Homo sapiens: one gene and its partners. The protein of the gene in region 3 interacts with the protein of the main gene of each other region in a pairwise test. Each region holds a gene or a part of one and is shown on either strand. Other genes may lie near its edges.

Evidence for each region.
Region 1: the proteins of MAB21L3 (region 3) and AGGF1 interact in binary tests that used the Homo sapiens proteins (3 or more experiments, as listed by UniProt).
Region 2: the proteins of MAB21L3 (region 3) and CT45A1 interact in binary tests that used the Homo sapiens proteins (3 or more experiments, as listed by UniProt).

The regions. Positions count from the first base shown.
Region 1 is NC_000005.10:77,025,758-77,033,416, reverse strand, and holds the start of AGGF1 (angiogenic factor with G patch and FHA domains 1), read right to left. Parts: upstream 3,014-7,659; 5' UTR 2,651-3,013; coding exon 2,441-2,650; intron 1-2,440. UniProt on the Homo sapiens protein: Promotes angiogenesis and the proliferation of endothelial cells. Able to bind to endothelial cells and promote cell proliferation, suggesting that it may act in an autocrine fashion.
Region 2 is NC_000023.11:135,708,944-135,716,651, reverse strand, and holds the start of CT45A1 (cancer/testis antigen family 45 member A1), read right to left. Parts: upstream 3,014-7,708; 5' UTR 2,962-3,013; exon of another isoform or gene 2,945-2,961; intron 1-2,944.
Region 3 is NC_000001.11:116,121,374-116,128,399, reverse strand, and holds part of MAB21L3 (protein mab-21-like 3), read right to left. Parts: intron 6,270-7,026; exon of another isoform or gene 6,185-6,269; intron 4,806-6,184; exon of another isoform or gene 4,335-4,805; coding exon 4,043-4,334; intron 935-4,042; coding exon 756-934; intron 256-755; coding exon 61-255; intron 1-60.

The sequences.
Region 1 (7,659 bases), on a different chromosome or scaffold from region 3:
TGGGCACTATACTTGATGCTTTAGATAACATCTCATTAATTCACAAAACCACCTGAAATATTCGTTGTCCTAACCCCAATTTTACACATAAAATATCAGACAAGACAAAGTAATTTGCACAAGGCTATTTTGGGGTCTTGTACAAACCCTATACATATTATGGTTCTCCAGTTATCATTCTCAAGCAAAACTTTTTAACTGCTCCAAATAAAACACATTCAGTAATTTGGAATGACAGTTAATCGAATCCACCCTCTCCCCAACCAAGGGAGGCTGACTAGGAGAGTAAGGAGTTATCACTATTCAAAGTAGAGTCAAGACTTTCTATGAGATTAAATTTTTAATATTGGACTAAAATGGAGGCATGTGGAGGACAGATGATCCTCTCAGGCAATTACCTTCTGTTCGCTTCTGCTGCAGTTTAGTCACAGAACTACTATTTTTTTAAAGTGTATTAAAGCTTATAAGAGGCATTAACATTTAATAACTAAATCCACGTGAACATTGAATGATATTAGATAACATGAATGGGAATTGATAGCTCTTAAATTTTCTAATTCTTTAGGGAGAATTGCTGACCTCTCAAAATATTAGCATAAAAACATTCTTTTCTGTAAGAAATAAAGGATCTGTTCACAAAGTCCCATCATTTAGTCTGATTTATCAAATTAACAGTAACACCAAAATGCTGGCTCTCTGAAGATTAGCAAAAAACGTTTTCTTTTAGAATCTCTAACGCAAGCAGTACTTCAACAATTTAGAATTATAAAGGAGCTTTTCAAAAGGCTGTCATGTAAAAAAGGCTGTTATATTTTGCTCCCGTCTCCCCATTTTTTTTTTTTTTTTTTTTTTTGAGACGGAGTCTTGCTTTGTCGCCCAGGCTGGAGTGCAGTGGCGCAATCTCGGCTCACTGCAAGCTCCGCCTCCCGGGTTCACGCCATTCTCCTGCCTCAGCCTGTAGCTGGGACTACAGGCGCCCGCCACCACGCTCGGCTAATTTTTTTTGTATTTTTACTAGAGACAGGGTTTTACTGTGTTAGCCAGGATGGTCTCGATCTTCTGACCTCGTGATTCGCCCGCCTCGGCCTCCCAAAGTGCTAGGATTACAGGCGTGAGCCACCGCGCCCAGCCACCTCTCCCTGTTTTTTTTTTTTTTTTTTTTTTACCATATTTGTATTTTCCTAGCATAGTTATTACACACCGTAGGTGTTTAAATTGACTAAACAAAAACTTTCCAATAATGTCATGTCAGGAACTCCATGTAATGGTCATACAAAGTCATTGCAACTCAACAGTTATTTTCATAGTCCATTTGGTAACAAAACAAAGAAGTCTGATGACGTTTCAGTGTTCAGCCTATATACTGGTTTTAGGAAACCACCAATAAATTATGAAGGACTAGACAACGGTCAAATTGAAACTAGTTACTATGTGGAAATAATCTGTTGGCAGAGAGGGCCTGCCAACAAGGTAGAAAAAAATACTATGCTCTTGGTTTTTTGGTTTTTATTTTGAGACAGAGTTGCACTCTGTCGCCCTGGCTGGAGTGCAGTGGCACGATCTCGGCTCACTGCAACCTCCACCACCTAGGTTCAAGCAATTCTCCTGCCTCAGCCTCCCGACTAGCTGCGATTCCAGGTGCCCGCCGCCACGCCCGGCTAATTTTTGTATTTAGTAGAGACGCCCGGCTAAATTTTGTATTTCACCATGCTGGCCAGACTGCTCTCGAACTCCTGACCTGGTGATCTGCCCGCCTCGGCCTCCCAAAGTGCTGGGATTACAGGCGTGAGCTACCGCGTCCAGCCAAGGTTGTTTTTAATGTGACAGTTTAAGTATTAACATTTGCCCCTACCATCTTGGAAACGAAATAAGCTGCTTAACGTCTCCAACAAAAGCAGTTATATATCGTCCCTACTTACACAAGAAAGCCGAAGATGATAAACGCCCAGAAGAGCAACCTTAAACAGGTATAGCATTCAAAAGTTTGTAAAATTGTTTGTTTTACTTCACCTTTACTACTGTGAGCTATCATTCTCATTTAATGGGGAACTGAGACTCGGTATATAAGTTCACACACCCAGTGAATAGCAGAGATGGGATTCTGACTCAAGTCCAGCATTTTAATAAACTCAAATGTGATCTACAGTAAATGCGCCTACTGCCAATGGGATGTTAGGTCAAGTGAGAATGAAGACAATGTAGCCACAGTACTTAAGTTCAATTCACGCCAGCCGCGAGACATTGATTTAAATCAAGTAACCTGAACTCAGGTTTGCTCCTAAGGTACTTGGAATTGTAACTGCGCTGAGCTTCTACTTATTTACTTTAAGTACTCTACAGTAGTTCTGAGCCCCTGCCAGGGACCCCTTCCGAGGCTATCACGGGCTTCGAAGGCCTCGCCTGGGCTGGATGGGGCGCGGGGCTGAGGAGGACCGCGCACCTGCGTGCGGAGCTCCTGGTTGTTGCTTTCTGCGTTCTGGTACAGCCGTTCTGTGTGATGCAGCAGCTTCTCGATCTCCCGCACCTGCCGCTTGCAGCTCCGCAGTTCACGTTCCAACTTCTCCACCTTCCGCCTTAGCTGGGCCAGCTCAGGCTCGGGGGAGGTGGGCGGCGGCGGCGACCGCGGCGGGGACGGCGCCTCCGAGGCCATGAGCTCCGGCGCGAGACTGCTCGTCGCCGCGGAGGGGCTGCGTTCAGGCCGAAACGGACGCCGGCGGACCCAGAGACCACTGGAGCGCGCGGGCAGCGAAAGGCAGCCTCACACCCGGCTGGCCGCGGTGGCCCCTGGCCATGACGCCCTGAAACTCACTTGTAGCCGAACGGGGCTGCGAGCAACGAGCAAGGGGACCGAGGATGGCCCCTGCCCGATGTGCGCGGCCTGCAAACCGGAAAACTTTCCTGGAAACTACCTTCTCCAGCTACAGAGACAGAGGGAGGAGCGTCGGATAAGCAGTCGGAAAACCAGAGGCCAGAAGAGCTCCAGCAGCTCCCCAGTTGAGCCGGAAACAACGGCGCCAGCGGCAGGCGGGACCAAGACGGAACAGGAAGCGACGGAAAGCGGGAAGACCTGACAGTGTACGTGCCGACGTCTCGGCCTGCGGAGGGGCGTTACCTGAGGGCGTGGAGAGCTGTGGCAATGTGGCTACCGAAGCCCTAAGAGCGACAGGGAGGCTTGCAGCCTCTGGTCTCAGACATTTGCACGTGCGGATGTTCTTTGAACAAACTTTTAGTATAGCATGCATTTCCTATCTCCTTGTTTTACAAATAAGAACAGAGTATCCCAGAAATGATTTGTGGGGACTATGATGCTCTACTTATGTCAACTGAAGAATGAGGAGGTTAATAAATTTAGAAAAGGGCTTTATTTCTCATGAAGGGTTACAGCCTGCAGGGTGGCCTTTCTGACAGGCTTGGAAGCATAGCCTCTGGTCAGAAGCTGAGAACAGACACTTGGAAGGAAGGACAAAGGGAACAGAAATTTATGCTGAGCAGGGTGGCCAAATATATTCAATGAGCTGTAGGAGGATTCATGAATATTTATGAAAGGAGAAATATGCACATGCACAATTAAGCTTCCTGCCTCTCTATGGGACCCATATTCAAAAAATGGTGGTGTTAGCATGATCCCAGTGTGAAGTTTTCAGCCCTCTGATGTCAAATGGCAAAGCAGAGGACATGAAAACCCTCGCTGTGAGTCCCTGGTAGATTGGCCAGAACTTCTCTGTGGTTGGTGGTCTCTTATCAGGAAGGAATGCTGGTTGGTGTGAAATCAGCCCAACTGTCCTATAGAACTGATGTTTATGGTTTCTTTTGAATAAACCTGGAAATTTACCCTCCCAGTCTTAAAACTTCAGAAAGTTACATCTTTCTTATCTGAGTTCCTTTCTTGGGAAACCAACCATGAGGCCTCCCAGATAGTATCAAGGAATTGAAACTTACCAGATCACTGCATCTGGACAATGAGGCACCATACCCCTCACCCATCATGATTGCCTAACCAGCCACCTGCTGCCTGTTGAACAAGTCCTCATCCTTACCGCTCACTAATTCCTGTTTTCTCACATGTAGTCACATTTCTCCCTTGCCATATAAACCTCTAATTTTAGTTGGTTGAGGAGATGGATTTGAGACTGATTTCCTATTCTCCTTGGCTGCAGCACCCAAATAGAACCTTCTTCCCTGGCAATACTCCTTGTCTCAATGACTGGCTTTCTATGTAGTGAACAATGGGTCTATTCAGTCAGTTCAGGGGCTCAGAATTTTACTTTTATTTCTCATTTAGTCATTCTTCTGGTTCCTGAGTTTAGACCCCCCGGGAAAATAGAGCAAGTACATTAGGTCTGAGTCGCAAAAAGGAGCATCCCTGGTGGGAAAATAAGAGAGAGACAATATTCTGTGGAAAAGGGGAGAAAAATGCTCTGGTTTGGTGCATTTATTTGGTCTTTTGTCTGCATGACCCTGGCATTGGTTTGCCAATATTTAAACTGATGTGGCCTTCTTTGGAACACACTTCCTTCCTTTGCCAAAGTCATTTAGAATTAGATCATGAGCTCAGAGTCCTGGGCCTGAGATTTGTGGAGGTCAGCAGCTGTGTCATGCAGATGCTCCTCTCTCAGGGCCCAGCACAGTGCCTGTCGCAGAGCAGTATCCGTAAATGCTGAACACAGCTGAACAAGAGAATCCTGTTTGGTGTCTTAGATCAGTGGCCACTTCCATTAACTATATTTTCTTATTTTTTGTATTCTTGATGCTCTGGCATCTGGGGTCTCCCTGACCAGGGAGATAACCCCTCCAAGGGTTAGCTAATTCCTAGACATAGCAAACAACTCACCCAGCATGCCACACACTGATCATCTACCTTCTTTATCAGGCTGTTACACTCCATGCCAATATTCCCCTGCCCTAATCACTCCAGGGCAAAGTACCAGACAACTAGGAACAACTCCTACATCTCAGATCCCACTGAAATTATGCAAACTAAACCTGCTTATCCTGATTTGTCCATTCCTTCCTGCAAAAATCACATAATGTTTTTTGCCATGTTTCCTCCCACTCCTTCTGCCTCCTTTGGACCTTGGTGCTTCTCCACATTGCCTTGTGTGGCTTGGTGTGCATCCTCCTCTTGGGCTGGGTGAATAATAAACTGTCTTTTTGATAGCAGACCATCTCCTGATCTGTTGGCCTCACCATACATAAATAATAATAAAATCTAAATTTTAAAATATGGCTCTGTATGTATTTTTGTCTTGTGCACTGCCCACTAGATTATTCATAAACAGTGAGCTTTCCAGCAGAGACCTGCCCTCTCTAGGGCCTGTACACATTCCTCCTTAGGCCTGAAGAGTTCTTCACAAGGCACTGTATCTGGAAACATAGAGATTCTACCTTATTGTCATGTCAAGAGTAACCTTAAGCCATCAAAGGAAGTTTAGTGAGAAGACATGGTATGTCCCCTGTGATGCAAAAAAAAAGATGTATTGCAAAAAATTTCTGACTTCCCTTGATGCATTATGACTCCATTAATGAACATATTGAAGTCCTTTTAAAAAGATGCTATTTTCTACTTTCTCCACCTATTTTCTTTAGGGGATAAGAAATTCCATAAATACCATTTGAAAGGTATCTTTAAGATGATATTTCAGTTTTTAGTAATTAACTGGAGAAAAAATAAATAAGCTTATTGACTGCTACTTGAAGCAGTGCTCCTCTTATTTGTCTTAATCTGTTCAAGGCTAAGTTATCTTTACCTTGTAATACCAGTCTGTATCCTACCTCTGACCATTAGAAAAGAATGACATTTTTTTAGAAAAAGCCTTGAATATCAGGAATTGCATTAAGGTGCTAGTATCAGAGGTGGTCTATAGTGGCTTATTAAACAAATTAGGGTGTTATCCTGTTACATTACAGAAGCCTAGAGAGGGGCAGTCCATGGCCAGTGACTCCACAGTTCTTCAGGGACCCAGGCTCGGTATGTCTTTCTGCTCTGCTATTCTCGGAGCATGTTTCCAGAGCCTCCAGGTCGATCCATGGTGCAAGATGGCAAGGGATGAAAGGACTTTCCCAAAGCCCCACTCAATGGTTCCTGTCTACCTATCAATAGCCACCCCTTGCTGCAAGTGGGGCTGGGAATTATGTGTATATGTGTGTTTTTCTAAGCTAGACGCATTATTCTCCTAATAATATAGGGGTTCTACAAGTAAGGAAGAAGGGCAAAATTCATGTTGAGTATGTAAATAGCAGTCTTTGCCACACCTAGTTTTCAGATCTAAGAGGTACTTAGCATAGTGGGCAGAGGCGCTGCCCTAAAAAAGCATTCTACTTGACACCCTTCACGATTTGATTTTGTTTTGTAATGTTTTTTTCCCACATCCTCTCCAATAAATGATATGAACCATTTTTTGTACTTTTTGCCATTATGAATATAATGAGCTATTTCCTTGCTGTTTTAATTGATACTCCTCTGATTACTAGAGAATCTCATACATTTGTTGAAATGTATATATGTTGAAATGGCTATATGTCCTTTCCTTTCTGTGAATTGCCTATCCATATCTTTTTGCCCATTTCTTTCTTGTTATTTTGCAGTTCTTTATATAAACAAGGTATTCCTTCTTTATCAGTTTTAGATATTACAGATATCTTCTCCCAGTTTGTCATATATTTGTTAGCTTTGTCCAGTGTTCTTTGTTAGCCAGGAGTTCTTAATTTGTATGTCATGAAATCAGTCTTTATTTTATTTTACTTTTTAAAATTTTATTTGGCTTTACAGTGTAGGGTTTCATGAAGACTTTCCTTACCCCAAGTCATATTTTCTTCTATTGATCTTATAATTTGAACTTTCACATTTGTTCTCTATTCCAGCTGGGGGTATTCAGACATGACCTAGTTTTCTCAAGACCATCCCCTTTGCATTGCTTTGTAGTACCACCATCATCTTCCATCAGGTTCCCATCTTTATATATGGGCCTAGTTCTGAGCTCGCCATTCTTTTCCACTTGTCTATTAGTCTGCTCCCATGCCAGAGCCACTCTGTTTTTATCACTTAGGTTCTTTAGTATGCCTTAACTGGTAGGGCAAGGCCCTATTTTGTTTTTCTTTTTCAAAATCAGCTTATTCATAAACCTCTATTTTTCCATATAAATTTTAGAATGAGTTCGTTGAGTTCCTCAAACAATCCAATGGGATTTTTATTAAGATTACATTGAATGTATAGATTTATTTAGGGGAATTAACATAAAACTTTATTTAGATAGTCAATTCACATACATTTTTGCTTAATATTTTTCTTGGACTTTAGTACAATTTTAACACTTGTTTCGGGAAAGGTCTTGGGTATTCTTTCTTAGGTTATTTCCTAGACACACCGTAGTTTTATTGTGAATAAAATTGTATACTGTAGTATATTAGAGAGGGAAAGAAAAGTCAAAGTGATGAATAGGTTTCTAGCTTGGATGAGGAAGATAGGGACTATTGGAGAAGAGTATGTTGCATGAGGAGGAAGGGATGCTTTAGTTTCGATATTGTTAATTATATTGAATTTGAGGTGTTCAGTAAATAGTGAGCACTGCAGAAGCCTATCTGAAGCTTGAGAAACAGATCTGGCTGTAGAACTACTACTGTGTAAAGCAAACTCAAATGGCTCCAAGGGCTAGGGAGATA
Region 2 (7,708 bases), on a different chromosome or scaffold from region 3:
TCTGTTCCTCAAAGACACTATTAAGAGGTGAAAAACCAAATCATGTTTGTAGATTATACATTATGTAGTATATAGTATAGGTTATATATAAAATATATATTACTTACACACATATATACATATTTATCTGGCAACAAATGAATGGAATCCAGAATATATCCAGAACTACAAATGAATTTCTAAAAAACAAACATCCCACTAAAATTTGGGGGGAAAAGCTGAATATGCACTTCATAAGAGTCATACTCTAATGGCTAATAATCACATCAAATATATCTGGACTCTGACTTTACTCCATTCCATGAGAATTTATTTCTGATGATTGGGAGATCTAGAAGAAAACTTAGAATATTATCATCATGAGTGCAAATTAGTTCAACCATTGTGGAAGACAGTGTGGCGATTCCTCAAGGATCTAGAACCAGAAATACCATCTGACTCAGCAATCCCATCACTGGGTATATACCTAAAGGATTATAAATCATTCTTCTATAAAGACACATGCACACGTATGTTTATCACGGCACTATTCATAACAGCAAAGACTTGGAATCAACCCAAATGCCCATCAATGATAGACTGGATAAAGAAAATGTGGCACATATACACCATGGAATACTTTGCAGCCCTAAAAAAGAATGAGTTCATGTCGTTTGAAGGGACATGTGTCAGCAAGATAACACAGGAACAGAAAACCAAACACCACATGTTCTCACTCATAAGTGGGAGTTGAACAATGAGAACACATGGACACAGGGAGGAGAACATCACACAGTGGGATCTGTTGGGGGAGGGGGGCTGGGGAGGGATAGCATTAGAGAAATACCTAATGTAGATGATGGGTTGATGGGTGCAGCAAACCACCATGGCATGTGTCTACCTATGTAACAAACCTGCACGTTCTGCACATGTATCCCAGAACTTAAAGTATTTTATATATATAAGTATTATATATATAAGTATTATATACATATAAGTATTATATATATAAGTATTATATACATATAAGTATTATATATATAAGTATTATATACATATAAGTATTATATATAAGTATTATATACCTATAAGTATTATATATATAAGTATTATATACATATAAGTATTATATATAAGTATTATATACCTATAAGTATTATATATATAAGTATTATATACATATAAGTATTATATATAAGTATTATATATAAGTATTATATATATAAGTATTATATATAAGTATTATATATATAAGTATTATATATAAGTATTATATATATAAGTATTATATATAAGTATTATATATATAAGTATTATATGTAAGTATTATATATATATAATATATAAGTATTATATATAAGTATTGTATATATAAGTATTATATATATAAGTATTATATATATATAAGTATTATATATATATAAGTATTATATATATAAGTATTATATATATATAAGTATTATATATATATAATAGTAATGGCATTGGGTGATTCAAAGATGTTTCTTAAATAATAAAAAGCACTACCCATAAATAATACACTGACTAATAAAATTAAGAGAATCTGTTCATCTAAAATACATTATTGAGATCGTGTAAAAGCAAAAAAGATTTATAGAAGATACTAAAATTGTATACGTATTTTTATATATGTACATATATGCCTGCGTGCATGTGTATATAACTCAAATACAGAATATATGGAAACTACAAATCCATTTTTAAAATACAAACATCTCAGTAAAAGCTGGAGGAAAATACCTGAAAAGGAACTTCATGAAAGACATAGTTAAATGACCAATAAACACATAAAATGGTGCTCAAAAAAAAAAAAAAACAATAAATAGCTGGGTGTGGTGGCACTGCAATCCAGTCTGGGTGACAGAGGGAGACCTCATCTCAAAAGACAAACAAAAATCAATAAATAAAAACAATTTTTTTAAAAAGGTGCTCAATCTCATTAATCGGCAGAGAAATGCGAGTGTAGACATAAGGAGAGATCACTGCACACCCATCGGAGTGGCTGGAATGAAAGACTAACTGTACAGCGAGTGTTCGAATGTGGCACAGCTGGAACCTTCGAATATTTCTGGACTTCCATTCCCACACAGACACCTGAGGCTGTGGCCGAAAGGTCAGATAGAGTCCCGGTGAAGAGTTCCTTCAGAATTGAGATCAACCCACCGAGGAAAAGCACCCCAACCTGGGTAGAGACAGAGTTCCCAAGGTCACGTGGCCTCCCTCATGGCTGACACAGAGCTCCCTGAGTCCCACCATAGGCTTAGAGAATCCAAGGAACAGCACCCCATTCCCCCGCAGCACCGGGAGAGAGCACCCACCACCAAGACAAAGCATCCGGTAAGCGTCCACATCGCGGATAAGCAGAACCAAAGAAAAGCCAACACATCCTAGCTGAGAGTGAGCGACATCCAAGGGCAAATGTGCCTCACGGACGACATCAGCACCCAAGGAAGAGTCCCTCGCAGGTTGAGATAAAGCCCCCGTCAGCGATCCCACAGGGCGGCGATCATGCGTCTGGGACACAGCCACCCCCACCATGTTCCATGAGAACAGATAGAGTCCCCAAGGCAGAGCCCCCGCTCAGGACTGCGACTGAGTGGGAAAGAAACAGCACCGCACCCGAGGCCGACACAAGCAACCAAGGCATGGCCCCCACCCCCGGGCTCAGGTCATTTCAGTAGGAAAAGTCCCTAGCATCACCGAGACAGAGCCCCCAAGAAAAGCCCCCCGGCCTCACAACATGGCTGAGACGAGGTGCCCAAGGAAAACGCTCCCCCGCGGCTGACACAGGCGCCCATGGCGGTGTCCCCAGAGCTGAGCCACTTCCCCAAGGGAGCCCTACCACACACCAGACAGAGAACACCACAGAAAAGACTCTTTCTGAGGAAAAAGGACACTTTCTGGGGTGAAATTAAAGCATCCAGGGAAAAACTGCCCCACTCACAGTCCTTAAGTCCTGACCTTGCTGGAGGAGAGACAGCAGCACCTCACAAAATGGCAGTGAAGTTGTGGCGCCTCCCCACTGGTGGCACTTTCTAGAAACCTGCCCTCTGGGAGTTGTGGGAAATGTGCCCCCTAGGGCACCTGGGAGTGATGTGCATGGGGAGGCGTCTCACCAGAAGCACCGATCCCGTTTGGTCCAAAGGGGATGGAAGGAAGGGAAGCAGCCAGCCACAGTGTGCTGGCCCAGCCGAACACTGGGAACCTGTTGGGGGCGCCAGAATCCTGAGGTGAAGCCTCGTGCCCCAGAGAACCAGGAAGCGCAGCCCTCCCCTTCGCTGACTGGCGCCCTCTACAGGCGACCTTCAGTAACAACTGCACAGCAACATAAGCAGAGGAACGCAGAACCTTCTCACACAGTGGGATGAAATCGCCTGGGTAACATAGTGAGACCCCGGCTCTACAGAGCAACCAACCAACCAAAAAAAAAAAAAACACACACAAAAATTAGCTGGGCATGGTGGCGGGCGCCTGTGGTCCCAACTACTCGGGAAGTTGAGGTGGGAGGATCGCTGGAACCCAGGAGGCAGAGGTAGCAGAGAGCCGAGAACGCACCACCGTACTCCAGCCTGGCCATAGAGGAGACTCTATCTCAAAAAAAAAAAAGGAAAGAAGAAAGAAAGAAAGAAAGAAAGAAAGAGAGAGAGAGAGAGAGGAAGGAAGGAAGGAGAAAGAAAAGAAAGAAAGAAAGAAAGAAAGAAAGAAAGAAAGAAAAAAAGAAAAGAAAAGAAAAGAAAGAAAGAAAGAAGAAAGAAAGAAAGAAACGACAACATCAACAAACTGAAATCTTCATTGGATGGGGTTGTGTTTTAAAGTCAACCCCAACGGGCGCTGTGGCTCGCGCCTGTAATCTCAGCACTTTGGGAGGCCAAAGCAGCTGGACCACCTGAGGTCAGGAGTTCGGGACCAGCCTGGCCAACATGGTGAATCTCGTCTCAACTAAAAATACAGAAAATTAACCGGGCGTGGGGCGCGCACCTGTAGTCCCAACAGCTACTTGGGAGGCTGAGGCAGGAGAATCACTTGAACTGGGGAAGTGAGGTTGCAGTGAGCTGAGATCACACCACTGCACTCCAGCCTGGGTAACAGAGCGAGACTCTGTCTAAAAATATAAATAAATAAATAAATAAATATAAATTCAACCTCTATCTGTTAAAGGTAACAGTTGTTAATTGATAAGAAAAATGAGGGCCACAGTGTGGTGGCTCATGCCTGTACCCCAGCACTTTGGGAGGCCAAGGTGGGTAGATTCCTTGAGCCCAAGAGTTCAAGAGTGGCCTGGGCAGCATGGTGAAACCCCGTCTGTACACAAGATACAAAAATTAGCTGAAAGTGTACTTGTGGTCCCAGCTACTTGGGAGGCTTGAGACCAGGAGGCTTGAGACTAGGAGTTTGAGGCTGCATTGAGCTTTGATCGCATAGCCTGGGTGACAAAGTGAGACTGTCTAAAAAAAAAAAAAAAAAAAAAAAAAGAAAGAAAAAAAGAAAGGAGGGGAAACCTTATTATATTGCATCTATTAATCATTTTAATCTGGAACTTTGTATATTTTTCCACCTTTTTTATTTTTTTTGAGACAGAGTCTGGCTCTGTCACCTAGGCTGGAGTGCAGTGCCATAATCTCGGCTCACTGCAACCTCCGCCTCCCAGGTTCAAGTGATTCTCCTGCCTCAGCCTCCCCAGAAGTTGGGATTACAGGCATGCACCACCATGCCCGGCTAATTTTTGTATTTTTAGTAGAGACAGTGTTTCACCACATCGGCCAGGCTGGTCTCAAACTCCTGACTTCAAGTGATTCATCTTCCTTGGCCTCCAAAAGTGCTGGGATTACAGGTGTGAGCCACCACGCCCCGCCCATTTTTCCACTTTCATAACTTATTTTAAGTGCAGCAAAATTTACTTGAATTGTTCATAGTGGCAAAAAATATTACAGCGAAAGTTTTGGAGTTTTAATGGAACAAGCAGTTTCACTCTTGACACAATTATTTGGAAGGGATTACTTCACTGGTTTTGTAATTCAAAAGTTATGTTTGTAAAAAAAAAATTAAAAATATAGCCAGGCATGGTGGTGGGCACCTGCAATCCCAGCTACTCGGGAGGCAGAGGCAGGAGAATCACTTGAACCTGGGAGGCACAAGCTTCAGTGAGCAGAGATCGAGCCACTGCACTCCAGCCTGGGCGACAAAGGGAGACTCCGTCTTAAAATAAATAAATTAAAATTAAAATTAAAAATTATGTTTGTTAAGTACCCTGTCAGAAGAGAGTCATTTTCAGTATTATAGCTTCCTAGCCTATTGTATTAATATTTGCCTGTGTTTCAGAACCTTTACAGAACACATTTTCTTTTGGAATATATTTGATTGATAGGAAAGCTTAAACATTGTTTTCACTTCGATGTAGGAACACAGTTGTTTTGTTTGTTTCTTCTAGTGTTATCAAAATGAAATACTCATTTTTGCATTAAAAAAATCCCACCACAGCAGTACTCATATGAGTATTTGATTGAATAACCATGAGACTGGAATCTTGTTGGGGCTTAATTAGAATCCTGCCTACCACACAAGCCACAAGTGGACAGCTGCATGTGACAGTCCTGACTGGGACAGCCCTGAAGGACAGTGATGAAGGGAAATCCTCCCAGAGGGAAGAACTTTGAGCAGTGCACCTTCTTGGAGGAGGCATATCCAGACGTGTAAGTATGTACCATGCATAGGCTGTGTCCCACTCATTCGCTGAATTGTCAGGGACATTGAGGACACATGATTAAAAATTTCTGTCAAGGACGTCTGAGAAAAAAAAACAAATATGTGGACAGACCTTTCCAAGTGGACATACAATGTGAAGATATTGGGGTCTCATGAGAGTTCTCAGCAAAGGGTATCCTCAGCAGAGCAGAATTTAATAATCAGATGGATAAGGTACTTATTATCTACATATTAATTAGCCTCTTTCCCCAACACTTGTGTCACAATCTTATGGGCTCAACAAAGTGGTCAAACTGTCAAGGATGGAGATTATGCGCAGTAGCATGGACTTCCACTCACCATGGCAAACCTGGCTACAGTCATTGCTGAGTGAACAATCTTCCAGGAATGGAGACCAACACTAAGCCCCCAATTTAGCACCAGACTCCAAAATGATCTGCCAGCCACTAGTTGGTATGTGGATTACAATAGATCACTTCTATTGTAAAAAGAGAAGTGCTTTCTTCTTACCTCAACAGACATTTAGTCTAGATATGGATTTTCCTTCCCACTTGCATTGCTTTTGAGAAAACCAATATTTGTATCTTGGCTTCCAAAATTCTGGAAAGCGCTAGTTCCTCAAGTTCCTAGGGTTATTCATTCTGGAGACTCTAGTATACTCTGCAAGAAAACCTGTAGGCCATCCACCAGAATGCCCAAATGGAGTCACTCTTAAATAACAAGCCCTGCATGTTTCCAGAAACTCTATTTATCAGTGACAAGTTTACTATGGCAGCCATTTCGCCACCCAGGACAGTTGGAGAATGGCAGATATTAGGGACCATTAACTCTGTAAAATCTATAGAAGACTGCAGTGAAGAATCACAGTTACAGAACGAAAAGTGACAGTCTTGTATTTTGGATGTTTGTTCAAAGAGGATATACAATTAATAAAGTGGTCAAGGAATAGGTTTCACCTTTAATACTAAAAACTAACATAGAAACTTGTAAAGGTGTCAAAGTGTAGTAATCCTTTTCATGTATATCTGGTTAAGATTTAAAACTGAAGCTTTCTTTTTTAACCTTTTTAAAATTATAAATACCAGAAGGGTACACGTACAGTTTTCTCACTTGGGTATAATTGCATAATGCTGGGGTTTGGGCTTCTAGTGAACCCATCACCCAAATAGTGAAGAGAGCATCCAATAGGTAGTTTTTCAACCCTCCAACCCGCTCCCTCCCTCCCCTCCACTTCCCTTTTGGAGTCCTCAGAGTCAATGGTTTCTACCTTTATGTTCATGTGTACCCATTGTTTAGCTCCCACATATGAATGAGAACATGCAGTATCTCATTTTCTGATTATCTGATTTTGTTTCTGTGTTTCACTTAAAAGTGAAGTTTTCGCCAGACACAGTGGCTCACGCCTGTAATCCCAGGATTTGGGAGGCAGAAGTGGGTGGATCGCTTGAGGTCAGGAGTTCCAGGCAAGGCTGGCCAACATGGCAAAACCACATCTCTACCAAAAATACAAAAAATAGCCGGGGCCTGGCGCGGTGGCTCACGCTTGTAATCCCAGCACTTTGGGAGTCTGAGGTGGGCAGATCACTCGAGGTCAGGAGTTTGAGACTAGCCTGGCCAACATGGTGAAACCCTGTCTCTGCTAAGAAATGCAAACAATTAGCCAGGTGTAACAGTGCATGCCTATAGTCCCAGCTACACAGGAGGCTGAGGCAAGAGAACTGCTTGAACCTGGGAGGTGGAGGTTGCAGTGAGCCGAGATCGGACCATAAACTTAATCAAATTGTTGTTCCAACTGCAGCTGCTGTACTGCAGGTGGTTTTGTTGCGTCAGCAACCGTGACATCCCTGGCAACCTGATATATAATATTAATTAGGTGAATGTTTTGTTTACTTTCAGTAGTTGTCATAAAGAAGAGTTTGGGTCCAGCTAGAAAGGACAGCAATGTACTATCATCTCCTCTTTCAACCTTATATCAACTCTCAAGGTTTATATCCTAAACGAGTCC
Region 3 (7,026 bases):
CAGGAAGAATGACCTATCCAAAGCTGCCCCTGGGTCTTCTCCAACCTGCCCCACACTCACCTGCAGATGGTGGGACGTGATAACCGGCCTGTTCCCTGGGCACCAGATGTCCTCCTTCAGGTGCCTCATGACCTGAAAACACTTCCTACGGCAGCCCCCATCTTCATCCAGCTGTTCCAGTAACACCTGCTCAGCACGGAGGAAGCTCAGCTGCCAGTGATAATTTGAACAGGCCAACAAGTTAAATCCAAACGACTGGAAGAAAGAGAAAAATATTGGGAAATAAGAAGAACAATGCTCACTGGTGTAGAAAGCCATTTCTGAAGCAGTCTGCTGGTCTGGGGAACTTGTCACCAGGCAGACAGCACATCCTACGTGGGGATGAGAAGGGGGTGCCAGGGAGACCACAAGCCACCTTGGATGTGGACAGTTAGAAGATGGTGCCCACTTCCTCTCCTACAGCAGTTCTCCAACTTGAGCATACATCAGAATCACATCACCCAGAGGGCTTCTTAAAACACAGATTGCTGGGCCCTGTTCACAGGGTCTCATTCAGCAGGTCCAGAGTGGGGGCTCGGGAAGCTGCATTTCTAACAAGTTCTCAGGTGACGCTGCTGCAGGGCCCACACTTTGAGAACTGCTGATCTAGTAACACCTCAACTTTCCTTCGGAAACTCATTGGCAGTCAGTAATGCTGTGACTGGTTAAGCTGTTGGCATCACTGCTCTGGCAAGCTGGGTCCCGCCCACTGATACCTTGATGCACTCCACTCTCTCTTGGGAAGGCCAGCGCTGCAGACATCGAGGCCACCGGGCTTTCTTGGACCAGGTGGTGGGGATCTCCACTGCGGGGACCAGCTCCAGTTCCACCTGATATGCAGATGTTTCCACAGCAACCCAAACTGCAGAGCGGTTTCCTAGCAGGCTGACCTTACCTGGTGGGAAATGACCAAATGGATAAGGAGAAGAGAAAGGTTTGCACATTACAAGCGTTCAAACAAGAAATTTGTGAGCAGTTGCTCTGACCAGCACCTTGCAACTGGTGTGGCAACTTTCACAATGTCTGTAGCACGTGAAGGATCACAATGCCTGTAGCACGTCAAGGTTTTGACATCAAAACCAGATGGTTAGTCAGCTAGCCAGCATCGGAACATTACTAAGAAGTCTCATTGCTGGTGAGTTTTTCTTTCTCCCCCAACCCCAAGGCATTTGGGGTACCTTTTCTTTTAAATTAATAGATTCTTTTCAGGAGGATCAACTGAAAGTAAAAGCCATAGAATAAAAAGAAAAAGTGTAGTATAGATGCTCCTTGACTTACGATGAGGTCACATCCTGATGAAGCTGAAAATATTCTAAGTTGAAAATGTATTAATACACCGAACCTACCAAACATCATAGCTTAGCCTACCCTACCTTAAAAGTGCTCAGAACACTTACATTAACTTACAGTTGGGCAAAATCATCTAACACAAAGCCTATTTTATAATAAAGTGTTGAATATCTCATGGAATTCATTGAATGGTTGTATGGGTACTCGAAGTATGGGTTCTACTAAACATGTATCACTTTCGCACCCTTGTAAAGTAAAAAAATCATATGTTGAGCCATGGCAAGTTGGGGAACTTCTGTATTTGCTACTGTAAAAATGAAACCTAACTATTTTTCTATATCCTTCTCCATTCCACCCAAATATCTAAATGTTGGTTTTCAGAGTAATGCAAACATAGGGAAGGCTAATGCCATTTTTTTTCCCTCTTCACCTAGATATTCTGACACTGGTTAGGGACAGCATCAGCCTCCTTATTTATGCATATGCCTTTGGTGAAATTTGGCTTCACCTTTCTTTTATCTGAGCCTCAGTCTCTTAGATGGTATTTGTTTTTACCATCCATTCAGCCAGCCGAGCCTCAGAGGTATCTATCATCAGAAACCCCTGTAACCACAAAATACATCAAAGCACGTCACAGCCACTGTTTCAGAGGATTGAGTGATTTGAAAGAAGTCTCCATTGCCTCGTTTTCCAACCAGGCAAAGAGAAGAAGAGAAAACTAACGCATCTAGTAGTTTTCCAGCTCACATACTATAATTTCCTCATTTCCAATTTGCTCCTTCTTCTTTCAAAAGGTACAGTTTTTGTTTGTTTGCCTTCATTGCAGATAAAGATAAGCAGTCTTGAATAGATCAGGATCTATTCATCCTTATTTGCTCATCCCAATTCTTGAAATAGATTGGAATCTATTATTTTGCATTTCCTTGCACAGAGAAGAAAATGGAAGCACATTAATTGTGTTAGGCTGTTCAAAAGGGAAACATTCCCTGGCCAGGGTGGGATAAAGGGCTTGTCTGCATCTCATCAGAGCTGCCCAGACAGGAACATGACAACTGGCACTTTAGCATTATTTACTAAAAGCGCCTCATAAACCTTGCCCATTCTGAATCTCTGCTTTGCACTTTCACCATGAATAATGTCGCACAGCATAAGAGGTGAGCCGATGCTGCAGCCAGCCTGCCGGCCCACACCCTGCCGGCCCACACCCTGCCCTGCAGCTGGCTCTGCTTATGAGGTGTGTGAACTTCAGAAGTGACTTAATCTCTCTAAGTCTCAGTTTCCTCATCTCTAAAACAGGTAGGAAAAGAATTCTTACTGTATTGTGTGGTTATGAGGATTAAATTAAATAACCCATGAAACTTATTCTACTTAGTAAAAAAATCTATTAAACATAAACTATTACCATTATGGAAATTTTCAGAACTATTCTGTCTAGACAAACAAATGTATGTATGAATACATCCTTTTATTTTCACACAGATGGAATCTCATATTGTTTAGCAGTTTGGTTTTTCACTTAACTATTTAGCACATGCATTTTTCATAGCTCTGTATGTATGCATGGGCATATGCCTGTTCTTTTTAAAGGCTGCATAGTAGTCCAGTAGGCAGAGATAGCATAATTTAATTTAGCCAATTTTCCTTTGTTAGCCATTTAGATTACTTCTAGCTATTTACTATTATAAAACCTATGGCAGAGAATATCCTGGTGCACAATTCTTTGTGTATTTGTAGAAATATATTTCTAGAACTGGAATTGTTGAATTGTCAAGTAAGCACATTATAAAAATAAAATATAGACAACTTGCCCTTTAAAAAGGAGACACCAATTTACACTTCTAATAACAACATGAGAATACCCATTTCACCATGCCCACTCGACACTAAGCATGATCAAACTTTTCATTTCTTTTAGCTTGCTAGGTATTTTAATGCACCCAACATTAGGTATATTCTAATATACGTTGAAATATACATTAGATGGAATGCCTTTTCTTATTTTTGCAAGCCATTTGTATTCTTTTTCTGTGATTCCTTTTTTTTTTTTGGTAATTATCTCTATTGGTCAGCTCATCTTTTTTCTTATTGATTTATAAATTAAGAAAATTAGCCATTTCTTTCCAGTTTGAAATTCACCTTTTCGCTTTGTGTGAACAAAAAGGGAGTGTGTGTGTGTGTGTATGTGTGTGTGTGTGTGTGTATGCATATGCTGTACAGTAGCTTAAGACTTTGGAGTTGTCAAACTTAGTCAGTTCTTTATGGCTCCTGGATTTTGTGCTTTGGTACAAGTTAGTGGTTTCCAAATGTGGAATCTCAGCACCCTGTGGTACTGCAGTCAGATGGAGGTGCTGCAGTAGAAATGTGCTAATAAAGAAGACCTGGGGTTTGTGAATAATTTGCTTTTTTAAAAAACAATACGCTTAAGTTTTTAAGCCTGGTTAAGGTGCATAATCCACAGCATTTTATATCTATGCCAGCACAGTAACTTTCTTAAAGCCACAAGACTATTTTGTTAGTATGAATTCCAATCTTCTGTGCATCAACAGCAGGAAAAAAAGCTGATTCATATTATGAAGATTAAATAAATGTGAAGAGCACATGATTATTTTCTCAAATGTAGGCTGTGAGCTGCAGGTAACACCCAAACAGAGGTTTTATAGAGTGAAAGGGGAATGCCAGCAATTACCCTTGCACTTGTTCCTGATCAGCTCACCTGAGAGGTGACAGGTTCTAACTGCATTTTCCACCAGCTTCCGGAACACTAGGAGGACCTTGGCAGGCACAATGTCTCCGTCGATGTTCACATCTGTCTCATGCCACTGCCACAGGCTCTTCATAAACTGTTCCACCTCCAGCCACTGCTGCAGACCCTCAGGGTCCCGCAACGGGCAGGGCAGCCTGGTGCCCTGCAGTGTGTAGTACCGCCAGTGCTGCTCCCTGGCCTCCCTGTACCCGGCCAGGCCTTTTATTGGGACTGTGACGAGGAACTGACTGGGAGCCAAAACCTAGGGTCAGGAAAGGATTGAAAACAAGCATGAATTCACAGATTCGGGAGGTAACGGAAGTCCTGGGAACCAACCTGTCTCGTCAGGCAGCTCTGTTAACCACTCCACCCTCAGCAGAGTGACCAGATACACGGAGACCTCGACCTGGGTGTTACAAGTGGATTACCTCTTTGTTCTGCTACTGAATCATTGTAAATACTTCGGGCAAGTAAATTAACCTGCTGAGTTTATTATCTCATGAATATACAAGTAAAGACAGTGAACTAAACCAGGAACTCCAGAGGAGACCTAAGGTTTGAGAAAGAAGAATGAGTATGCATTCAGTTCCATGCAGACGCAACACCGTAATTCTAATGCATTTGACCATTTCAACTTCACAGTCACACAGTAAGGTGAGCTTTCTTGCCATTTTCCAGATAAGGAATTCAAGATGCAGAGGGGCTTGGAGATCTCCTCAGGGACACACAACCAGTAAGTAGAAGAGTCAGAATTTGAATTTAGGTCTTTGGACAGCTTGTTCAGTTATTATTTCTCTACCCTGGGCTGGCACTCAGCCAACAATGAATGACATGGAATGGTGAATGTTTTGACACAAATTAAAGGTGGGAAGTAACAGGAGGGGACGTAACAGATTTTGTAAAATATCTCCTTTTTTTTTTGGCCTGTACTGATGACCTATGGTCAGTGTTCATGACTAACCCTTCCAAAATAAAGGCAAAATGAAAGCTTATTTGTTGAGACAATGTGAGCTGTTGAGATGATTCTAAGCTTAAAGAAAAAAGCAAACAATCAGAATTTACCTAGCCCCTTTCTCCAGGAACCAGTGAAGCAACGACTGGGGGAAAGCAGGCAGACCGGCAGCCGAGAGGTAGAACAAGTGGGTAAACAGAGCAGCCAAAGGAGCTTGAACTATGACCATGTCCCACTGCATGCACGCCTTCGGCTGTGAGTCAGCTGCCTCCTCCTCCTGGAAAGCTCTGACCATGGAATTTGGTTAACTCTTGCCCAGGGCCAGTCATTGACCCATTGAGTGGGGAAAGCCCTAATCAGCTCCAGCTGGTTCTGTCTAACTCTAAGAAAACAATAGTTTGATGTTTTAGATGATGTATCCACATGACTTCTGGTACCCATAGAAAGGCAGCTGGATTTAAAAAGAGGAAAAACATCTAAAGTCCCTGGAATTTCAGATCTGTACATTATTTCAATTCACTTTCATGTGAATTCAAAAGCACAACTATCATGTTATTAGTCATATAAGTGGTGCTTAGTAGATATTTGTTGAGCAGCTTGGGCAATATGATGAAATCCATCTCTACAAAAAATAAAAATAAAAAAATTAACCAGGCATGGTGGCATTTGCACTTGTAGTCCCAGCTGCTCAGGTGGCTGAGGTGGGAAAATCACTTAAGCCTGGGAGGTTGAGGCTGCAGTGAGCCATGATCGCAGCACTGCACTCCGGCCTGGGTGACAGAATGAGACCCTATCTTTAAAAAACAGGCAAAAAAGCAAAACAAACAAAAACTTGTTGATTTTGATCTAAGTTAAAAGCAATTTTATATGCTATGCTGTAGCTATTTTCAAAACTTAATATGTGAGACATGACATATATAAATGCAAGATATATTTTAAGCTATGAATTCTAAGTGGGACCACTGAAGGAAATTTCCTTGGGTATAGTGCTAAGAAAAGTAATGTAATATCTCTATTTCTAGTCACTGGTCTATGTGTGTCCAAGTTAGATTGGCTTGGGTGGTAGAGTTGGGCAAGTGATATTCTAGCATTCCAGGATTCAGTCTGGTTTTATAATTTTCACCCTGGGATTAATTTCCTACAATCTGAGTCTGTTTCAGAATCCACAAATCCCAGAATCTCTTAGGTGGTTCCTGCGTCCACCAACCTTGAGATGTAATGGGCCAGCAATGGTCTTTTGCTCAGGTACTAATTCTTTTACTCATTCATTTATTCATTCATTCCACATATGTTAAGTGTCTACCATGTGCCACATACCATGCTGGGTGCTAGGAACAAAACGAATAGTAAACTTGGTCCTTACAATCGAGGGATGTGCAGTCTGTTGTGAGAAATGGGCCATGAATACATACAAATTTAATACAAAGTGAAAGAGGTAGGTGGCATAATAAAAATCGAGATAAAGAATAATGGAGATTCAGAATGATTCAGGATCTCACTTCTCTTACCTCTAAAATGGAAATGAACAGATTGTCTTTTCCACAAGGTGGTTTACAGGTTTAAGTAAGGTCGTTTCTCTGTGTACAGCTCTGCCCTCACTACTGTGTTGCCTGAATGCTGGTGTTACCCATTGGCTTACACTGGGTGGGATTCTTTAGCAGGGAGAGGGGTTGCCAGTCTGCTCCTGCAGCTTCTCAGTGGCACCTCTTCTACTTTCTTCCTTCCCCATCTGCAACCCACAGACTGACTTTCAACTGTCTTCTTATGGATGCCCTCAGTTCCCTCCACCCCACCCCCAATCTATTAAGTAGGTGCTTAATAAATGAATGTGTATTTAACTGAGCTTTGATTGTGACAGCGGAATGTGCTTTGGAATCAAAAGCCTCTGTGTGAGTTCTGGCTTTAGTGCCTGATATGACTTGATCAAGTCATTTGACTTCTCTGAGCCTAGTTTTTCTCATCTAGGAATGTGGGGGCTCAAAGGAAATAACATCTATCTTTT